Linked DNA regions of Homo sapiens. The protein of the gene in region 3 interacts with the protein of the main gene of each other region in a biochemical or structural test. Each region holds a gene or a part of one and is shown on either strand. Other genes may lie near its edges.

What was found. Proteins that work in one complex are often made in the same cells at the same time.
Region 1: the proteins of GTF2H3 (region 3) and CDK7 form a complex in vitro, tested with the Homo sapiens proteins (2 studies listed by BioGRID).
Region 2: the proteins of GTF2H3 (region 3) and GTF2E1 form a complex in vitro, tested with the Homo sapiens proteins (one study listed by BioGRID).

The regions. Positions count from the first base shown.
Region 1 is NC_000005.10:69,251,864-69,258,890, reverse strand, and holds part of CDK7 (cyclin-dependent kinase 7), read right to left. Parts: intron 6,474-7,027; coding exon 6,440-6,473; intron 4,290-6,439; coding exon 4,222-4,289; intron 3,432-4,221; coding exon 3,363-3,431; intron 849-3,362; coding exon 738-848; intron 1-737. UniProt on the Homo sapiens protein: Serine/threonine kinase involved in cell cycle control and in RNA polymerase II-mediated RNA transcription. Cyclin-dependent kinases (CDKs) are activated by the binding to a cyclin and mediate the progression through the cell cycle.
Region 2 is NC_000003.12:120,773,722-120,780,748, forward strand, and holds part of GTF2E1 (general transcription factor IIE subunit 1), read left to right. Parts: intron 1-2,701; coding exon 2,702-2,943; intron 2,944-7,027.
Region 3 is NC_000012.12:123,650,806-123,657,832, reverse strand, and holds part of GTF2H3 (general transcription factor IIH subunit 3), read right to left. Parts: intron 6,840-7,027; coding exon 6,777-6,839; intron 5,310-6,776; exon of another isoform or gene 5,302-5,309; coding exon 5,272-5,301; intron 5,127-5,271; coding exon 5,098-5,126; intron 2,910-5,097; coding exon 2,835-2,909; intron 2,063-2,834; coding exon 2,009-2,062; intron 1-2,008. UniProt on the Homo sapiens protein: Component of the general transcription and DNA repair factor IIH (TFIIH) core complex, which is involved in general and transcription-coupled nucleotide excision repair (NER) of damaged DNA and, when complexed to CAK, in RNA transcription by RNA polymerase II.

The DNA of each region.
Region 1 (7,027 bases), on a different chromosome or scaffold from region 3:
TTGCCCAGGCTGGTCTAGAACTCCTGGGCTCGAGATATCTACTTGCCTCAGCCTCCCAAAGTGCTGGCAACACAAAAGTGAGCCACCATGCCTGGGTCAAAACCTATGTTTTAATACTCTGTCCATTATCAGCAGCCAACCTTGAAAAAAAATATAACCATGGTCAGGTCACTTAGCAACTTAGCTCTTCATCTATTAAAAAATGAGGAGGCCGGGCGCAATGGCTCACGCCTGTAATCCCAGCACTTTGGGAGGCCAAGATGGGCAGATCACGAGGCCAGGAGATCGAGACCATTCTGGCTAACACGGTGAAACCCCGTCTCTACTAAAAAAATACAAAAAATTAGCTGGGCGTGGTGGCGGGCACCTGTGGTCCCAGCTACTCGGGAGGCTGAGGCAGGAGAATGGCATGAAACCAGGAGACGGAGCTTGCAGTGAGCAAGAGATCGCGCCACTGCACTCCAGCCTGGGTGACAGAGCAAGATTCCATCTCAAAAAAAAAAAAAAAAAAAAATGAGGGACTGGATCTCTTCCAGTTCTAAATTTCACAAAGTAATATGGAGTCCTTACAGCACCAACTGCTGGAACAAGTGAAGGGAATAATATATAGCAAAAAGATGGGATAAAACAGTCAGCTATAAATTCATTGTTAAACAATTTACATATTCAGACCACTATGTACCAAATTGGCTATATAAAACTTGACTAGTATAAAGAAGCAATATTAAAAACCTTACCCTATGTAGGATCCAATGTTGATGTAAATATTCTAATCCTTGAAGAGTCATCAACATGTAGGCTTTGATGTGTGATGGTGTCAGCACAAGACTATTATCCTTTATTATAACCTGTAAAGCAAGTATACAATATACAGGTACCCTTTATTATTTCAAATAAACTCTACCACATAAAACAATTTACAGACTTAAAATGTAAGTATCAATACAGGAGACTCTCAAAAGAGGTTATCTAAGTTTCCTCAGGAAGCCCTGTCAAAATCTCCAGAGTTAGATGGGTAGGGAGAGCATTTCTGGTTTGAAAAGAAAGCAGTGCTTTGTCCTCTACTGCTTTCGCATGAAAGTAGCAAACACCTGTTGTTTCTGCTTGCATCTTCTGACAATAGCAGTTAGTGTTCCTTTGGGAAGCCATCTCTTCTCAGCTTAGTCCACATGGTTAAGGTAGGACTGAGTCAACCTAAGGCCTCCAGAGGTAGGCACATGACCCAGGCATCCCCATTATCACACTGCAGTCTCCTGGCCAAGTGATTGGTTCAGGGATACAAGACAAGTCAATCAACCAGGCCAAGTACTTGTGCTAGAATCAAAGAAAAGAAAGCACTTTCGTTCCTCAGGTATTATTAAACTCTACAAACATATACCTAGAAGCATCTGGAACACCATATTGAGAACTGTACACATGAAGAATGCAACAGAGAAGAAAATGGAGCTTAGTTAAAGCGTAAGACTGAGTTTTGATGGCATTATTTATGAGCTGTGCCTAATGTCAGTTTATTCTAGATTTATCAGTTAGGAACTAAAAGTTCCCCTTTTCTTTTTTTAAAATCAGATTTAAGGTAAAGCATACCCTTTTTAGTGTATAGTTCCATGAGTTTTGACAAATGCATCCAGTCATGTAACCACCACTATAATCAAAGCATAGTTCCGTAACCTCCCCAAATTCCCTGAGGCCCCTCTGTACTTACTCCTTTCCTTTACCCCAAAGCCCCCATAACCGCTGATCTGGTTTCTGGTTCCTTTCATTTTGCCTTTTCCAGAATATCATATAAATGAAATGGTTCAATACATAGTCTTTTTAGCCTGGCTTCTTTCACTTAGTATAATGCATTTCAGATTCATCTATGTTGCTGCATTTATCAATAGTGTGTTTCTATTCCTGAGTAGTATTTCAGTTTGTTTGTACAGTTAGAATGAGGGATGTTTGGATTGTTCCAGTTTTGATAATTATTAATAAAGCCAAACATCTGTACCAACTGAATTCTGGCATACGTTTTTGTTTCTTTTTTTTTTCTTTTTTCGAGATGGGAATCTCACTCTGTCACCCAGGATGGAGTGCAATGGTGCAATCCATAGCCTAGTGGTGAGTCCATAGCCTATTATGATAGGTCCTTCCAGGATCAATACCATTAGTATTGTGATCTATAACAGCATCACTAATATTGTGATCGATACCACTAATCAATAATCTTGTGATCTAGCAATACCACTGCTAGGTATTTATCTAAAAGAAAGAGGCCGGGCATGGTGGCTCACGCTTATAATCCCAGCACTTTGGGAGGCTCAGGCAGGTAGATCGCCAGAGGTCAAGAGTTTGAAACCATCCCGTCCAACATAGTGAAACCCCATCTCTATTTTAGCTGGGCATGGTGATGGGCGCTTGTAATCCCAGCTACTCAGGAGGCTGAGGCACAAGAATTGCTTGAACCTGGGAGGCAGAGGTTGCAGTGAGTTGAGATCGCGCCACTGTACTCCAGCACGGGTAACAAAGCAAGACTCTGTCTCAAAAAAACAAAACAAAAACAAAAACAAACAAAAAAACTTGGCTTTCAAAAGAATGACATTACTCTGATTATATGGAAATAAGTTTCTTTATTTTTTAATATAATTTGTAAAGCTGAGACAGGATCTATGGGGTCCAGGCTGGTCTTGAACTCCTGGGCTTAAGCAATCCTCTTGCCTTGGCCTCTCAAAGTGCTGAGATTACAGGCGTGAGTCACTGCACTGGCCAGAAATAAATTTTAAATTCTTATAGGTTGCTAGGCATGGTGACTCATGCCTGTAATCCTAGCACTTTGGGAGGCTGAGGCAGGCAGATCACTTGAGGTCAGGAGTTCAAGACCAGCCTGGCCAACATGGTGACACCCCGTCTCTACTTAAAATATAAAATTTAGCCGGGCGTGGTGGCACCTGTAATCCCAGCTACTTGGGAGGCTGAAGTGAGAGAATCACTGGAACCCAGGAGGTGATGGCTGCAGAGAGCCGAGATCACGCCATTGCACTCCAGGCTGGGTGAACAGACTGAGACTCCATCACAAAAAAAAAAAAAAGCAAACAAATCTTATAGGTCTAATGCTCATTTCTCCAAAAATGACGTCAACTAGCTATGGGAACTTAGAAGGCAGAAATGCCAATGAAATCCAAATCTTTGTATGTAACACTGGGGATATCACTAAATGATTAGAAGAAAATAACTAGAGATCCTTTTGCCTCAGAGTACATCCAAATTTCAACAAAATTAAGCTTTTTTTCTTTTACTACCAGTATCTTCTTGGGTAGAAAACAAATATTTAGGTTCTTGTTTGATAAACTGGGACAAAGGAATTTCTCCAGGAATCTTAATCTTACCTCTAGATCAGTTTCCATAAAATCAAAGACAAGGCTAATATTAGATTTATGTCCAAAAGCATCAAGGAGCTGCAAAGTTAAAAAATTAAAATGTGATTCACTATTTAATACCTGACAGTATCATAGCAACTGAGGCAATTTTTAAAAATTTAAAAAGCATTTAAACTGTTGGTAATTCCCTATAAAGCTTAAATCATTTGATTAAATTTGACATTTGTCCTTTTTTGGACAGTACTAAAGGAATTAGTATTTTGAAGCATAAAAATATTAAATTTTACTTAAAAAAATACCCAACCTCTTTCCCCAAATATTTGGAGTTAGAATTAAGAAATTAACCAATGAAAACCTCATTCCAGTCTCCAATTCAAAAGAAAAGTCCCAAATGTGATTCTTAAGAAATCCTCTAAATAACAGCAGCTATCATTGAATGAATGAATACATTTTCTATGGTAGGCACTATTCCAGATACTTTACATCTATTCAATTGGCTAGTCTCACAACTTCCCTATGAGGCAGGGACTCTGGGGAGTTGTGAGTGAACACACTCAAGGTCTCACACAGGCAGAAAGAAAGGTTTTGAATTCAGGTTGACACTCTCAGCCACTACATGCTAGAGCTCCCTAGACTTCAAAATTATTTCCGACAAAATTAGCCTACATGTCAATATTTCATTTATTTAATCAGTGGTATAGTTTTGAAGACAATGCCTACCAAAACAACTGGGATAGAAAATGTATTTCCTTTAAGCTTCTACAAGGCTCATCCAGAACAAGTCATCTTGCTGAGCCTTTAATCAACATCCATTATATTAAGAAAAGGCAGAGTCCCAAATCCCAGTAACAGTTTTGATCATACTCACACCAATTATATTTGGATGACTTAGCTCCTGTAATAATTTTATCTCTCTTAAGGCGGTTCTATTTATACCTATATAAAAAGGCAAAGCAAAAAGTGAATAATTCTGAAATCTCAAACCTTACAAACACTTCTTTTTTTTTTTTTTTTTTGAGATGGAGTCTCGCTCTGTCGCCCAGGCTAGAGTGTAGTGGCGTGATCTCGGCTCACTGCAACCTCTGCTTCCCGGGTTCAAGCAATTCTCCTGCCTCAGCCTCCAGAGTAGCAGGGATTACAGGCACGCGCCACCACGCCCGGCTAATTTTTGTATTTTTAGTAAAGGCGGGGTTTCACCATGTTCATCAGGCTGGTCTCCAACTCCTGACCTCGTGATCCACCCGCTTTGGCCTCCTGAAGTGCTGGGATTACAGGCGTGAGCCACCACACCCAGCCACAAACACATATTTTTAAAGAAAGGTTAGTAATCTCAGAAAATAGTGAACATTACCCACAAAAATAAGGGCTACTTTGACAATTTTTATGTCAAATCTGTTGTTCTTTTACATTGCTTTATTTTTATTTATTTATTTTTTTTGAGATGGGGTTTCACCCTGTCAGCCAGGTTGGAGTGCAGTGGCATGATCTCGGCTCACAGCAGCCTCCACCTCCCAGACTCAAGTAATTTTCCCACCTCAGCCTCCCGAGTAGCTGGGACCACAGGTGTGCACCTCCACGCCTGGCTAATTTTTTGTATTTTCGTTAGAGATGGGGTTTTGCCATATTGGCCAGGCTGGTTTCGAACTCCTGAGCTCAGGCGATCTACCCACCTCACCCTCCCAAAGTGCTGGGATTACAGGCGTAAGCCATGGCACCAGGCCAATATTGCTTTACTTTTAAAATAGCTTAACAAAGACTACGACAAATGGTGAAAAATATTTCACCTTATCTATACCAGGATCTGAACACCACTACTAGACTAACAACATATATAAGTGTGCAGCATATAGGTGATAAGCTTCCCTACTCTTGCCCTACAAATATTAGTGGCATATTGTTTGTGCTAAAAGCAAACTAGTGATAAGATAGTATATTTTCCAATACAAATGACAGATTTCAAAATTAAAAATTAGATACAGGCCGGGCGCGGTGGCTCGTAATCCCAGCACTTTGGGAGGCCTAGGTGGGCAGATCACTTGAGGCCAGGAGATCGAGACCAGCCTGGCCAAGGTGGCAAAACCCCATCTCTACTAAAAATACAAAAAATTGGCTGGGCATGGTGGTGTGCACCTGTAATCCTAGCTACTCAGGAAGCTGAGGCAGGAGAATCGCTTGAACCCGGGAGGTAGAGGTTGCAGTGAGCCGAGATTGCGATACTGCACTCCAGCCTGGGCAACAGAGCATGACTCTGTCTCAAAAAAAATAAACAAAATAAAAATAAGATATAGTATTGGCACTTACACAGACAATGGGTCTCTTTTGTAAGAGCTATTTTATGATGAATCCTAATAAATAAGACTTTGGAAGAAAGTTTAATGAAATAATTTCCTCATGTATCTATTCCATAGTAAGCTTTATGTACTTTCATGAAAATGTATCCTGAATTTTCAAAGTAATTAGAAACTCAGAAACAGAAAAAACAATGGCTTGTAACACCTAAAACAGTAATGAAGACAGAAAGACAAACTAATTAAGCTTGCTGCCTTCCATTTATGTGGGTGATTTGGAATGTTTCTCTGAATATCCAGTAAGTAAAAATCACCAAATACTCCTTCTCTATGCTGAGTCTATCTTTACTCTTCGGGGACCCTGCAGTAACTCTATCCAGAACCATTACTAACTTATTAATTCATACTTTGCTCGTTTCTTCAGTGAGAATGAAAACTTTATGCTGGGCATGGTGGCTCAAGCCTGTAATCCCAGCACTTTGGGAGGCCGAGGTGGGAGGATAGCTTGAGGCCAGGAGTTTGAGAGAAGCCTGAGCAACACAGCCAGACCTCATCTCTACAAAAAATAAAACATTAACCACAAGTGGTGGCACATGTTTACAGCCCTAGCTACTCAAGAGGCTGAGGTGGGAGAACTGCTTGAGTACCTAAGTTTGAGGCTGCAGTGAGCTACGATTGTGTCTCAGTACTCCAGCCTGGGTGACAGAGCAAGACCCTGTCTTTTTAAAAAAAAAAAAAAAAAAAAAAAAAAAAAAGGAGAAAACTTTTCCTATCTGTCAGATTACATGAAATACTTACCATCTTTAGCTTCTGATCTATGTCCAAGTTTGATCTGGTAGAAACGGAAAAAAACCCAAATATATTAAAAATGTGTTAAATTATTTAGAATCAATGAATAATGTGTAAATACTTCAAATACTTCGCCACAGAAAAAAAAACAATTAGCAACCAATATGTACCTACTAGGCAAAAAGAGAGTAGGAATCATGATCAGAAAGATAAAATTAACAATATAAGAGAGAATCAAATACCTACCCTTGTCCCTTAAGTTTCTGAACTACACATTCAAATAATAAAATTAAGAAAAATCTATTTTACCTTTTCAAGGTTCAATGTGGACCAAATAACTAAGGGTACCCTGATTAAAAATAAATACGTAACTTCAAATTAGGCTACTTGGGAGGAAAGATACAGAAAATAACATGCTGTAGAGTTGGTAATAAGCCCAATAATATGCTCTTAGACACCACATTTTTCAAAAAGCAAAATTACAAATTGTGATGGTTAAAATGTTGTTACTCTGAATAAACATAACAAATTACATTAACAGGTTTAGTCTTACACAAAATAAATTACCTGGGTAAAGAACATTCTCTCACTGCTTTT
Region 2 (7,027 bases), on a different chromosome or scaffold from region 3:
TCTAAAATTTATTAAATAATATAAAAAGATTCAAACATGAATTGTCATTTTTGTCATCTTCAATTAAAATTGTTCCAAATTTTAAAATTTGTTTGACTTATGGTCAAATGTCTGCTGCCTCAAACTAGAATAAAACCCATCTTGAATTTCTATGACAGAATACTAAAAACAAAAGACTTTTTAAAAGTACTCTTGTGTTAACATTTATTTTAATTCTGTTCTTTTCTCTCTAGCTTTCTTGTTTTTCTCAAAGTACTCCTCATACCTTCATAAGACAGTCTTTGTAGTCAATGCTAAAGATAGAGAATAGAGAAAAACTCTGTGTTCAGGATTATATATAAAGAGAAGCAGTAACCTCAGAGTGAGTGAGTCATTTAAGTCTGAATCAAGGAAAGATAAGGATGTGGTTGGCCAGATCAGAGAAATATGCCTATTCTGTCTCTCCCAGGTGGGTTTAGCTAACTCAGGGAGAAACATTTTGGGGTGGCAGATATATAGAGCAGGCTCAGCACATCAAGATGGGGATGTTGGCTGAGGATAGAAGAGGCATTGAAAGGAGTCAGAGAGACAAATGGGTGTGAGAGGAGAGGCCAGAATGTAGAATAAGCACAGAAACATAAAAAACCAGATCAGACCAAGAGAAAAGAGAAAGTAAAGTGAATGCTGAAGAAGAGAAAAGTTCGAAAAGCCAACCTATACAAAGTAAGCAGCATCATATTACAGTGAAGGCAGCCACATAGCCTTTAAAAGACCACACAGAACAGATAGAAGATAGAGAATGACTAGGGACAGTTAATGGTTAAATTGAGATGAACAAGAAATGATACACAAAGTAACATCAATGAATGCAGAAAGAAATAGCAGAGAGAAACCAGTTATGTGCAATTGTAGCATAAGACTTCAGAATATAGCAAAAAAAAAAAAAAAATAGATGGATTGGATATATTTACAGAGAGATGCCTCATAGGTCTAGACTTAGAGTGGAGAGCAAATAACTGGTAGAAAGTAGGAGCAGTGAGGAGGCAAAAGAAGTGATTGAGACATGGAACAGGTAGAACAGGCACCGGGAAGAAAAAGGCTGTGGGAGAAAGTGGTTTACAAAGTAGCCCTGGGCACAGAGGTGGAATAATGAAAAGTATGCAAACGCAGTACCTGGAAGGCATGGATTAAATGACTGGATCAGTGTGGACTGGGCAACTGGAGATAACATTATTTTTTTGTTGCACAAGTAGCATGGCCCTATAGATATCCAGAGGCAGGACAGGATAGGTGGGATGAGCTAAGCCCAAGTTTACCTCCAGAGGATGGTCAGAAACACAGTGTAATTTAGGGAAAGATGTGATGGGCTAATCAGATACACGGACACAGACCTCAGCTAAGTATGAGTTAGAAAACCCCAGTAGATAAGAAGTGGACCCAGAACAAGTGAAGAGTAAGGGAGTAAGCAGAGATGAAGTAAGACAAAAGTGAAGGCAAAATAGTGAATGGCTTAGGAGGAAAGACTAATGAAGTATTTATTAGATTCAGAATGAGTCGGGGCTCCACACAGGAGATAATTCAGGATCCATGGAAAAGAGTGAGAAAAACGGACGAAAAATAAAGGAGAAACGTGAGACCAGGTCAGTCATGGACACTGAAAGAAACACCCAAAAGGTTTGGAGTGAGCAGGCAGTTCAAGAAACATGAAGATGGTTACAGGATAAAAAATAGCTGGACAGAGCGGGAGGTGGAGAAGCATACGTAGAAGTTGAAGTGGAAAGCATCAGTAGCAGGCAGAGAAAGGCATGAGCTCAGACAGAGAATCAGGCATATTCGAAAGAATTTGGAACAGATTGAGAGTGAAACAGGCAGATAAAATGGGGAACCATCAGAAATACTGAAAACTTGGCCTAACACAGAGGTTGGGGGGAACTTAAGTGACTAGAAGATAAGGAAATGATCAGACATGGAACAGGCTAACAGACAAAGAAGATCGTGGGTGGTAAAAGTAAAAAGCAAAATAAAATAGACTGAGAAAAACAGACCATTGTTACTGCAGAGTAGAATCAGTGGTTGGAGATGGATACAGAGTATCAGCATAGATGTGGAGATAGAAACATACAACTACATAGAAAAGCAGCTAGTTTGTGCAGAGGGTTATACCTTACTGCATGAGTGGTGGGAGAAGAACGTTGGTTGAGGTCAGGCTTTGTAGAATAGTTTTCTAGCTTTTTCCATGATCAGCACACAAAAGAAAGGAAAAAGCACACAGAACCACTTTGAATTGTTCTGGGTTGAGCTGAGATAACATTTTTAAAAATACAATGTGTTTTGTTTTTGTTTTTTAAACAAAATACTGGGAGAGATTTTTGTCAGACTAGTGGCTTTAAGTAGATGATGTCACCATATCACTTTCTCCTTCTCCAAGTATTAATAGATTTATTGAAACATCTTAAATCTATAAAACCTCAGTCATTTATATACATCAGAGGATCCCATGTTTGAGGAACTTAAATATAAATATGATGTGTTTTTCTAACGCATACAACTTTTACCCTGAGGTATAGAAGCACTTTCTTGGAATTGTTAAAGCATGTGTGCATGATTGCTAGGTAGCATTTACATGTAGTATTTCAGTAATTGCCTCCCTAGCTGCCCTTCTTTTCCAACACCAAGACATTAATTTTTCTTCTTCCTGTACTCCTCTATTCTTTTTATATAGCAAGGACCATGCAGCAACTACTGCTGGAGCTGCTAGCCTAGCAGGTGGGCACCACCGGGAAGCATGGGCCACCAAAGGTCCTTCCTATGAAGACTTATACACTCAGAATGTTGTCATTAACATGGATGACCAAGAAGATCTTCATCGAGCCTCACTGGAAGGGAAATCTGCCAAAGAGAGGCCTATTTGGTTGAGAGAAAGCACTGTCCAAGGGGCATATGGTTCTGAAGATATGAAAGAAGGTAAGAGTAGAAGTCAGTAAAATGGATGTGTCTTAGGTTCTGTAGAACATGAACTTGGCTTAGTGGGAAACTGCCTGGGCAATTCTGGATCTGTTCTACAGAACAATTAATTGCATTATATTAGGAAGTAAGAAATTGAACAATAAGATAAAAACCAACTAGTATACTTCCATTGCCCTTCAACTTAGTGAAAATAACAAATAGCCTTTTAAATTTTCATTTTTAGATTTGAAAAATTGTCATCTTTTTATCTTAATTTCTTGGAAAAATGCTATCTGTTGTTTTCAAGGTAGCCATACTCACCTTTCCTTTAATCTTATATTACCCTGACTTATATGCATTTAATTTTTCTGAATTGGGAGCCAAAACTATACGCTACCCCAAACTTTATGTTTTCTCTTCATAAATACCAAGGAGTGTATGCTACCTGAAATAGATACAAAGAGACCACATGAATAAAGGATTGAGCATTCTCACAGTCCAAGACGGTTAGCAGAACTTTGTTCTAGAGGATTTTGGAAATTTCTGAGGCATAAAGGGTTAAGAATTGCATACTAATCTTCGGAAGTTAGAGAACTGCAAGATTTTACTTTCTAAGTTTTAGTCTAAGTTACTGCATTCAAGACTTTGAGTGATGATGGTTTAGGAGTATGTAGAAAATGGGAGGCAAAAATGGATGACGATGACTCAAGCTGGAAAGTAGAGAGGAAGGGTGTCTCTATTTCTTGCTGAATTTTATCAGTGTAACAATCAATGTGCCGCTACTCCCAAGTTAATATATCATTACTAACATATCACGTGAGTTTGGTGATATGTTAGTGCCAAAGAATAATCAGTAGCTGAAAACCACTTGTTTTTTGGCGTTTCTCCTAGCCTCTTTTCCCTTCATAATTAGCATTTAGTATATGTATATACTAGAAATTGTGAAGGTAACGTGGAGTTTGGTAGTGATGGTAAAGCAGCTAATACCTCTACTGTGATTCTCTTTGATATATTAATTTTAATAAGAAAAGGTTTTCCAAGGCAACCATACTTTACCCTCCTTCTTCCTCACTGATTAGCCTGCCATGTTAGTTTTTTTGACGGAGTCTCGCTCTGTTGCCTAGGTTGGAGTACAGTGGTGCGATCTTGGCTCACTGAAACCTCTGCTTTCCGTGTTCAAGTGATTCTCTTGCCTCAGCCTCCTGAGTAGCTGGAATTGGGCGCAAGCCACCATGGCCAGCTAATTTTTGTATTTTTAGTAGAGACGGGGTTTTGCCATGTTGTCCAGGCTGGTCTCAAACTCCTGACCTCAAGTGATCTGCCTGCCTCGGCCTCCCAAAGTGCTGGGATTACAGGCATGAGCCACTGTGCCCAGCCTGTTGTGTTATTTAGATTGAAGTTGTTTTAGATTATACAGTAGTTAGGCTATACTACTACTTAATAAATTTGTTTTCCCCAACTTGGCTTCTTGCCTGTTCTTAAAGCAGCCTTCTTTTCTTTGAACTTAGGAAGAAAACTGAATAAAATAAAATTATTATTAACCAACATTATATATTAAGCTCATAAGTTTAACATTCTAGTTTACAGTTCCTAAAATGATAGAATATGAATCATATGGGCCTTAAATAAGTTATCTGGTCTACTTAAGTTTTGTAAATATTTATTTCTGCATAAAATAGGATAGTATGTTGTCATGTCTGAATTTATCCTAAGTTTCTTGATAGTAGAGCAGACTCTATCCAGTGAATGTATGAAGTGGGTCTTAACACTTGATTTTCCTCAAACTTCAAGTCATGTTGATATCTTTCACAATTGTATCGACTTCAATCATGTTCTCATTACTATACTGAAGAAAGTTCTAATTCCTTTTGATTCTGTTTTCCTTAAACAGTTCTCTTTTCCACTGCTGCCACCTCCTACAGTTTTTGTTTATTTTTGTCTTTTTCTGGACCATCTCTAATTGTAATATACTTTACTTGAGACATAGTGACCAGAATGATACATGTTGTTCATGCATGGATTCACCATTGATTTGAGTTTTATTTCCAGTATCTTTCTGGTTTTTACTTGAGATTTTGTTTGTTGCTTTGGTTCTGGAAGCATGTTAAGACCAAAAACTTCTAGAAACACGTAGAGGTACTTTTTAGGTTCTTCTGTGCCTTGAATCCAATAGCTTGGATCATATCTTTCAGTATATTTTAGATTATTTTTCTGCAGGCTGATTTTCTTGCACTTGCTGAAATAGAAATAGATCTGCTACTTTTCTGCCCACGTATACAACCTTCAGCTCTTCCTATATTTTTTTGCTGCAACTTGGCCTTTCAGTACCCACAATTGCTTAGCATCAATTCCGTGAATATAGTTTCCCAGTATACATCTTCTTTGTAATTTATAACTCTGTTGAAAAAGGCTGTTCCTAGAACCACTGTTTCTACTTTACCATCCAGAAATTTGCTCATTTATCCTTGTTTTTTGTTTTCTGTCTTCATCTGTAACAGAATAATTCTTTTTTCTCCAAACCTCTCAAGACCCTTGTCAGAAATCTGTTACGTGTGACTTAATTTAGTTTACAAAACTAATTTTCTTTTTCCCTAATTTAATACTTAAACATTAATCAAAATACTGTGTTGATATTATTAAACTATTTGGAACATTCTTTTAGAAGCAATTATTGTCTTAAAGGCTTGCATGCATTCCTTACCTTCTTTTCTTTCTGTTGTAGTGCTGCATTGGCAGTAAGCTCTAAGGAGGAGGTTCAGCCTTTGACAATATTTTGAAGTAGTTAAGTTTGATTTTAACTCTCATTTTGACAGTCATGTTATCAAAAGCCTCTTTTCTCTGACCTAAACTTTTAACTTGTCTGCTTCTGTTTCCCTTTCTCTCTCTTATCTGCTCAGTATCTCATTTTAGGAGTTCTGTGCCTTCTAAAATGTCCAGGGATTTAGCTAATTCATTTTAATGTGTTAATGAGAAGATGCTTTCACTTTATCCATAGTCAGAATTGACCATTTCTGAGTCTTCTCTTGATGACGATGATGATAGATAACACTATTCTAAGTGCCAGGCCCATTCTAGACACTTCACAGACATTCACTTAATCCCCACAGTAATCTAGTGAAGTAAATACTATTTTCCCCCTTTCTGTACTTGAGAAAATTGAAGCGGAGAGATGAAATAACTTGGCCAGAATCATACAGCTAAATAGTGTTAGGATTTGAATCAGGGAGTCAGGTTCCAAACAATACTTTTAATCTTTTTATGTATTTTAAATGGCAGTATGTTTGGTAGTAGTATCAGAATGCAGAATGCAGATGGTTTTCTTAAATATTTCATCTGCAGTATATCAGGTAAGATATGTACACAAAATGATAGGAGGTGTGTGGTGAGAGAAGCTTCATTCCTAAAATTAGATTCTTTTTTTATAAAGAGTTTTAAGTATGCTTAGTTTGCTTCATGAAAATAAAACTCACATTTATTCACTCATTTGTCAGATGTTTATTCAGTGCCTAACAGAGTGGCAGGTACTATTTAGGTAAATGGGATATATCCATGAATAAACAAGATAAATATCTGTTGTGGTAGAACCTACATCCTTGGAAAGGGGGTGACAAAGACAATAGATGTAAGTTATTCATTATGTTAGGAAATAAGTGCTATGGGGGAAAAATAGAGCATTGGGAATGTAGGGATAGGATACATTTAAAAGGTAACATTTGAATAAAGACATGAAAGATGGAAGGGAGTTAGCTGTGTGAGTACCTAAAGGAAAAATATTCCAGGCAGAGGGAACAGGTAATGCAAAGGCCCTGAGGTAGGAGTGTGTCTGATATGTACAAGGAATACCATGGAGGCTACTGTGGCTAGACAAGAATGAGCAGGGGAAAGAAGTAAGAGGTAGATGATCAGGAAGGATTCCAGATGATGTGGGACCCTATAGGCCATTGCAAAGCTTTTGGCTTTTACCTTGAGTGAGATAAAGAGCCATGTTTTGATTTTCTGTTATGCCAGCTACTCTAGTCGATTCTTCATAGACATTATCTTATATGTTTTTATTCAGAACCTTAGAAAGTAGATGCTTTTATCACCTCATTTTACAGAAAAA
Region 3 (7,027 bases):
TCCTAGGACCCTGAGGCTCCTCTGATAGTACAGTCCTGGTTCAGTTGGTCCGTTAGATTCATTTACACATTTAACAACTGTTTTAGAGCACTGTGCAGGGTTACAGCAGTAAACATCACAGTGTCCATCCTCATGAAGTTAAGGTTCTAGTGGAGAAGGCAGAGAGTAAATCAGGTAAGTAAATGCAAAAATAATGTTATAGGTTATGATCATTTCTATGAAGAAAAATAAAGTAGGCTAAGGGGAGAGGGAGTAACACTAACAATGGTGGTCAGGGAAGGCTTCTCTGAGGAGGTGGCACAGAAGTAGAGACGTGAAGGCAGGCAGGGAGTAGGCCATGCAAACACCTGCGGGAAGAGCTTGCGAGCAGAGAGAACAGAAAGTGCAGCGCCCCTCTGGCCGAAGCAGGCCTGTTTCAGGCAATAGCAAGGGGGCGGTGGGGCCGGACTGAAGAGGGAGAGTGTGGAAGATGCGGGGCAAAAGGTTCCCAGGAGCCTCAGCAAGCAGCATCTGGAAGGCCCTGGCAGGCCCTGACTCTGGGTTTTAGTCAACGTATGATGCTAGGCTATGGGAGGGTTTTAAGCAAGTGAGCAACAGGTTCTAATTTATATTAGGTTGGTGCAAAAGTAATTGCAGTGTTTACTGTTAAAAAAAAAAAAGGCAAAAACCACAATTACTTTTGCACCAATCTTGTATTTTGAAAGCTTCATTCTGACAGCTGTTCTGAGAACCAACTTTCACATTTTTTTTTCTTAAGAGGGAGACAGGGTTTCCCTGGAGTGCAGTGGCATGATCGTAGCTGACTGCAGCTTCGAACTCCTGGCTCAAGCAATCCTCCTGCCTCCACCTCCCGAACAGCTGAGACTACAGGCGTGCACCACCATGATAGGCTAATTTTTTTGTATTGTTTATAGAGATGGTGTCTCGCCATGTTGCCCAGGCTGGTCTTAAACTTCTGAGCTCAAGCCATCCACCCGCCTGAGCCTCCCAAGTGCTGAGATTATAGGCATGAGCCACTGAGCTCAGCCAGGATATATTTTAAAGGCAGAATCAACAGGATTTGCTCATGGTTATGAAAGGAGGGAAGAGAAGAGACAAGGAAGAGTCAGGTTTTTGCTTGAGTTGCTGAGTGAACTGCACTGCCACTTAGGGAGATGGGGCTACCAGTGGAGCAGGAAGAGGCTGAGAGGACAAACCAAGAGCTCTCTGCTTTTGACACATGACACTGAAGATGCCTGCCAGACGTCCAAGAGGAGGTACTACGTACACGGCTGATTCTGCAAGTCTGGAACTCAGGAGAGTCTGGGACTGGACTAGAAAAATGAATGTGAGGGCTGAGGAGGTAGAGCTGGTATGTGAATTCATGGCAGAGACAAGATCGTCTTGGAGTTAATAGACAATGTGTAGACTGAAATGTGTTGCTAAAAAATGAATTCAAACTTTTTGAATTTTTACTACTGAAATATAATATGTACAAGAGTCTGTATACATAATGTGTAAGTATGGTTTAAATAATAAAATGAACATCATATACCTACGATCAAGCTGAAGAAACAGTACAATCTCAGAGCCTTTGAAGCATGTAAATTTTCCCATTGGACCTCGCTCTCCCCATCCTTCATCCCCAGCAGTAACCTAAATTCAGGGTTTGTCATAGTTTTGTGCTTGTAACTGATCCTTTAGGAAACAACATTTGTGGCCAAAAAACATCTAACAAAAACTCAGTAATTTCTTCAGACTTACTTTAGGGTTTTGTTTCCCTTTCGGGTTAAAGTAAAATTCAGTTTTTGTCTTTTAGTGCTGCCCAACGGAAATATAACGCAAGCAATATGTAATTTAAAATTTTCCAGTAGCTCCATACGTAAGGGGGAAAGACATAGATAAAATTAGGCTGAATAACATATTTTATTTAACCCAATATACCCAAAGCTTTCATTTTAAATTGTAATCAATATAAAAATCACTAATTGTCATAACCACCGACACAAAGCATGGTTTTAAAACATACCTGTTGGAGGAGCCCTGAGTCGGAGTCTAAAACACAGGCATCAATCAAAATATTCTAAAAGAAACATTTTGAAAATATTACAGGAATAATAACAATAATGATTACCCTATACTGAGAACCTACTACATGCCATACTCTATGCTTAAAATAGCTCACTCAATATGCAACGTGACTCTGCACGGCAGATATTTGCATTTGGCAGCTGAAGCACCCAGGACATGGCTGGGCTGTGGTCACAGAGCCAGCGGGTGAGAAAGCTGTCACCCCACTCGGCATGTCTCCAAAGTCCAGGCTCTTTTCACTACATCATGCTGCCACTCCACAACAGAGAACATTATGCATGGCTATAGCAGCATTTTACATTAAAACTGAAATTTTAAGGAGGTTTTCTTTCTTCATAAACACACCAAAGAAGAAAATGTATTATACTTCATCTGAACATTTCAGCTCTTTGCAAAGTAAAAATACTGAATTTTTACAGCTTCGCCACAGCAACAAGATAAAGAAACTGATGCAAGGTTTATACAGCAAACTGTCAAACCAGGGATTCTTGGCATGGGGTCCAAGGATGGGCTAAAGGTTACCTGAATACCATGAAACTCTATGCAAAACTGTGGTTGAGTGCATATTGTTTTGGGAATGCATCAGATTCTCAAGTGGTCCAGGACCCAAAATAGAGAAAAGACTAGAACATAATACAGATTCTGGATTCCTTGCCCATTCATAAGCCTACGTAGTCAGAATACCTCAGAGTAGAGCATTCAAAAAATGAAATTGACTCCTTCGTTATGAAACAAATACTTTAAACGGCAGGCTCTCAGTTCACCTGTTTCTGTGCTGCAAAGATGACATTCATGAAGTTCATATACTGCAACGCACTGTCTTCTGCAGCCTTAATCACCTAAAAATCACAGTCATGTTAATTCCACCCAGGCACATGCCAGTCCTCTCACACCAATGTCACACAATATACTGCGAACCACAACCAACATTATTCCAGTTTGTCTTCCCATTTATCATTGTTAAATGATACCTAAAGTATAAAGATGACAGTAACATTTCCCCCGAAATCCCGCTCCACGTAACGGTTTGATGAACTCATTCTGGAGAGCACCTACATGGGCAGGTATATACATGCACACCCAAAACACAAACACACACATACACAAAATAAACACATACGCACATATACCCAAAATACACACACGCCCCCAAAATACACACACCTACCCACCCAAAATACACACATGCACCCCCAAAATACACACACACACCCAAAAATACACACACTCCAAAATACACACCCAAAATACACCCATACCCCAAATACACACACCCCAAATACACATACACCCAAAACACACACATATACAAAATACACACACGGACATACACCCAAAATACACAGGTAAGTACACCCAAAATACACACACACACAACCAAAATACACGTACCCCAAAAGTACACACACCACTAAATACACACACCCAACACACACACACAACCAAATACACAGCCCCAAAAAATACACATCCAAAACATACCCCCCAAAATACACCCCCCCAAAATATACACACCCCAAATACACACATAAAACAAACACAAACCCAAAATACACCCAAAACACACAAACACACCCCAAATACATACACACACCCAAAACACACACACATCCAAAATATACACACATACACACATCCAGAATACACACACATCCAAAATACACACACTCACACGTATCAAGATGATTACTTAGCATTCTGCAACCTGCTTTTTCAGTCCACAATATATGTGGGAAAAAATATTCTAATGTCAATGAATTATAATATATACTATGCTCCTTGCGGACTTCATAAATTTCCACTATTTAAGCAGTTTCCAGTTCTCAGTTTTAAACAATACCCTGATGATACCCTCATATACCATCTGCACAGCTCTCTAATTACCTCCGGAAAATAAGCAGTGATTACTAAAGTATATGAACATTTAATTTTGACACAGATTACCAAAATGCACCCCAGAAAAGATTTTTACCAATTTATCCTCCTATCAGCAACCCATGAGAATAAGCAATCCCCAACATCACCATCAACCCTGGGAACTGCCAGCTTTTTCATTTGTGCTAAGCAACAAACAATGAATATCTCGTTACTTGGCACTTCTTTTTTTTTTTTTTGAGACAGAGTCTCGCTCTGTTGCCCAGGCTGGAGTGCAGTGGCGCAATCTCGGCTCACTGCAACCTCTGCCTCCTGGGTTCACGCCATTCTCCTGCCTCAGCCTCCCGAGTAGCTGGGACTACAGGCGCCCACGACATTTTTTGTATTTGTACTAGAGACGGGGTTTCACCATGTTAGCCAGGTTGGTTTCGATCTCCTGACCTCGTGATCCACCCGCCTTGGCCTCCCAAAGTGTTGGGATTACAGGAGTGAGCCACCGTGCTCAGCCTTGAATTTCTTTTTTAAATCTCCCCACCCTGCCAGGAAAAAAAAAAACCTCCCTGATATTCTGACTGAGATTGTAAATTGAATTTACAGTGTGATTTTGGGAAAACTGACATCCAAGAACAAAATATGGCTCTCCACTTATTCTTCTATCGCTCTCAGAATTTTAGTTTTCCTTATCATCAGTTTTACACATTGCTTGTTAAATGAATCCTGGATAGTTAACATTTTTTGCTCCTACTATAAATGCGTTTTATTTCCCATTATGTTTTCTTTTTTTTTTCTTTTTGAGACGGAGTCTCACTCTGTCACCCAGGCTAGAGTGCAGTGGTGTGATCTCGGCTCACTGCAACCTCCAGCTCACTGCAACCTCTGCCTCCCAGGTTCAAACGATTCTCCTGCCTCGGGATCCCAAGTAGCTGGGACTATAGGCATGCACCACCACGCCCAGCTAATTTTTGTATTTTGAGTAGAGACGGGGTTTCACCATGTTGGCCAGGCTGGTCCCGAACTCCTGACCTCAAGTGATCTGCCCACCTCGGCCTCCCAAAGTGCTGGGATAACAGGTGTGAGCCACCACACCTGGTCTCCCGTTATGTTTTCTAATTATAGTTGTCATATAAAAAAGTAATGATTTTTTTATCTTACCAATATCCTTGATTTCATTTCCTGATTGTCTACAAAGAGAAAAAAGCAGAAAAAAATTTAACTAAATCTTACTAATCATATATGGTTTCCTAACCAATTTTTAAACAGTCTAGTAAAGAAATACTAGTAAAATAAGTAGGATTACAGTTCTCATAGGAAAACGTAGGCTCTTACCTTTAACTTCCTTGTTCATTCTATGAATGTCTTAATTTCTTAACATTAAGGAATACAAAAATATTATTTTGCTTCATAAATATTTATAGTAAAAAGAAAAATAACCTCCAATTTTAAATAAACCCAGCATCTACCTAGCTAAGAAGGGAAATGCTCCACTCACCAAGATAAATACACAAGAGTGATTGGGGGTTTTCAGTTCCTAACTCTGCAGTCAACTGGACTTTGTAATCTCACCAAAATATAATCTCTGTCCCAGAAAATTAAAATTCCCAACACTTGACTGTCCTATTCTTACCTACCATGTCCTAAATTTGAATCCTGGGACAAGTACTGATTTACAAATATGTTCAGGCAACCCACATCAAACTCCAGGACAAAATAATCACTCAATACTGCCCCTCCTCCAAAAAATTAATGCCATAAGACTGAGAAAACGTCACACAGATAAAATGAAAAGGTATTGCCCTATGCAAAACAACCCGTTCACCTATGGAGAAGGAGCCACTCATTTATTAAGCTTCAGGGCTCCTAAATGGCTTTTAAAAATCAAACACTGTTCCCAAGTCAAGAAGAAAATGAAAATGTTTAAAAAGTCTGAATTTATCAAAATAAGAAACAAGAAAGCACCCTGAAGCAGTGTTTCCTGAAGGCAGAAAGACATAATGGAGAAGCTAGAGTTTTCTCACTCTTCCCCACTTCCAGTTTTTACAGCTTATCTTTTTTTCTTTTTTTTTTTTTTGAGATGTAGTCTCGCTTTGTCGCCCAGGCTGGAGTGCAGTGGTGCGATTTCAGCTCACTGCAAGCTCTGCCTCCCAGGTTCACGCTATTCTCCTGCCTCAGCCTCCCTAGTAGCTGGGACTACAAGTGTCCGCCACCACGCCCAGCTAATTTTTTTGTATTTTTAGTAGAGACGGGGTTTCACTGTGTCAGCCAGGATGGTCTTGATTTCCTGACCTCATGATCCGCCTGCCTCGGCCTCCCAAAGTGCTGGGATTACAGGCATGAGCCACCACGCCCGGCCTTTACAGCTTGTCTTAATAAACATTTCAAAGCCAGCCACACACTGTGGCCTGTAATCCCAGCACTTTGAGAGGCCGAGGTGGGTGGATCACTTGAAGTCAGGAGTTAGAGACCAGCCTGGCTAACTTGGTGAAACTACATCTCTACTAAAAATACAAAAAAAATTAGCCGGGAGTGATGGCGGGTGCCTGTACCAGCTACTTGGGAGGCTGAAGCAAGAGAACTGCTTGAATCTGGGAGGCGAAGGTTGCAGTGAGCCGAGATTGTGCCACTGCACTCCAACTTGGGCGACAGAGTGAGACTGTCTCAAAAAAAGAAAAAAAAATTCAAAGCCAATGTAAACTATTTTTTAAAAAATTACCCTCCACTTCAGAGTACTCACATGTCCCAGTAATGGGCACCCAAGGTCCTAAGAAATGTCACAAGTTAAGATATGTTTATTACAGAAGACACCTTCTAAATGATTCAGACACCAAGGATACAGCAAAGGGCTTTGGCCAGGGATCCTGCCAGCAAAGTTTCTGTATGTTGACCCTTTATGTCACCTGCAAATAACAGAAAACATTAAAAGGGAATTTTTAAGTACTTTCTTGAACTAAAATCATTGGGTGCTTTATTGAACTAAGTATGCTTTCACACCAAAGCATTCTTCATAAATGAAATCAAACAAGACATTTTCAAACTAGGTTTAAAAACATAGCAATGTGTTCTTGGTAATGGTTAACTAAGCAAC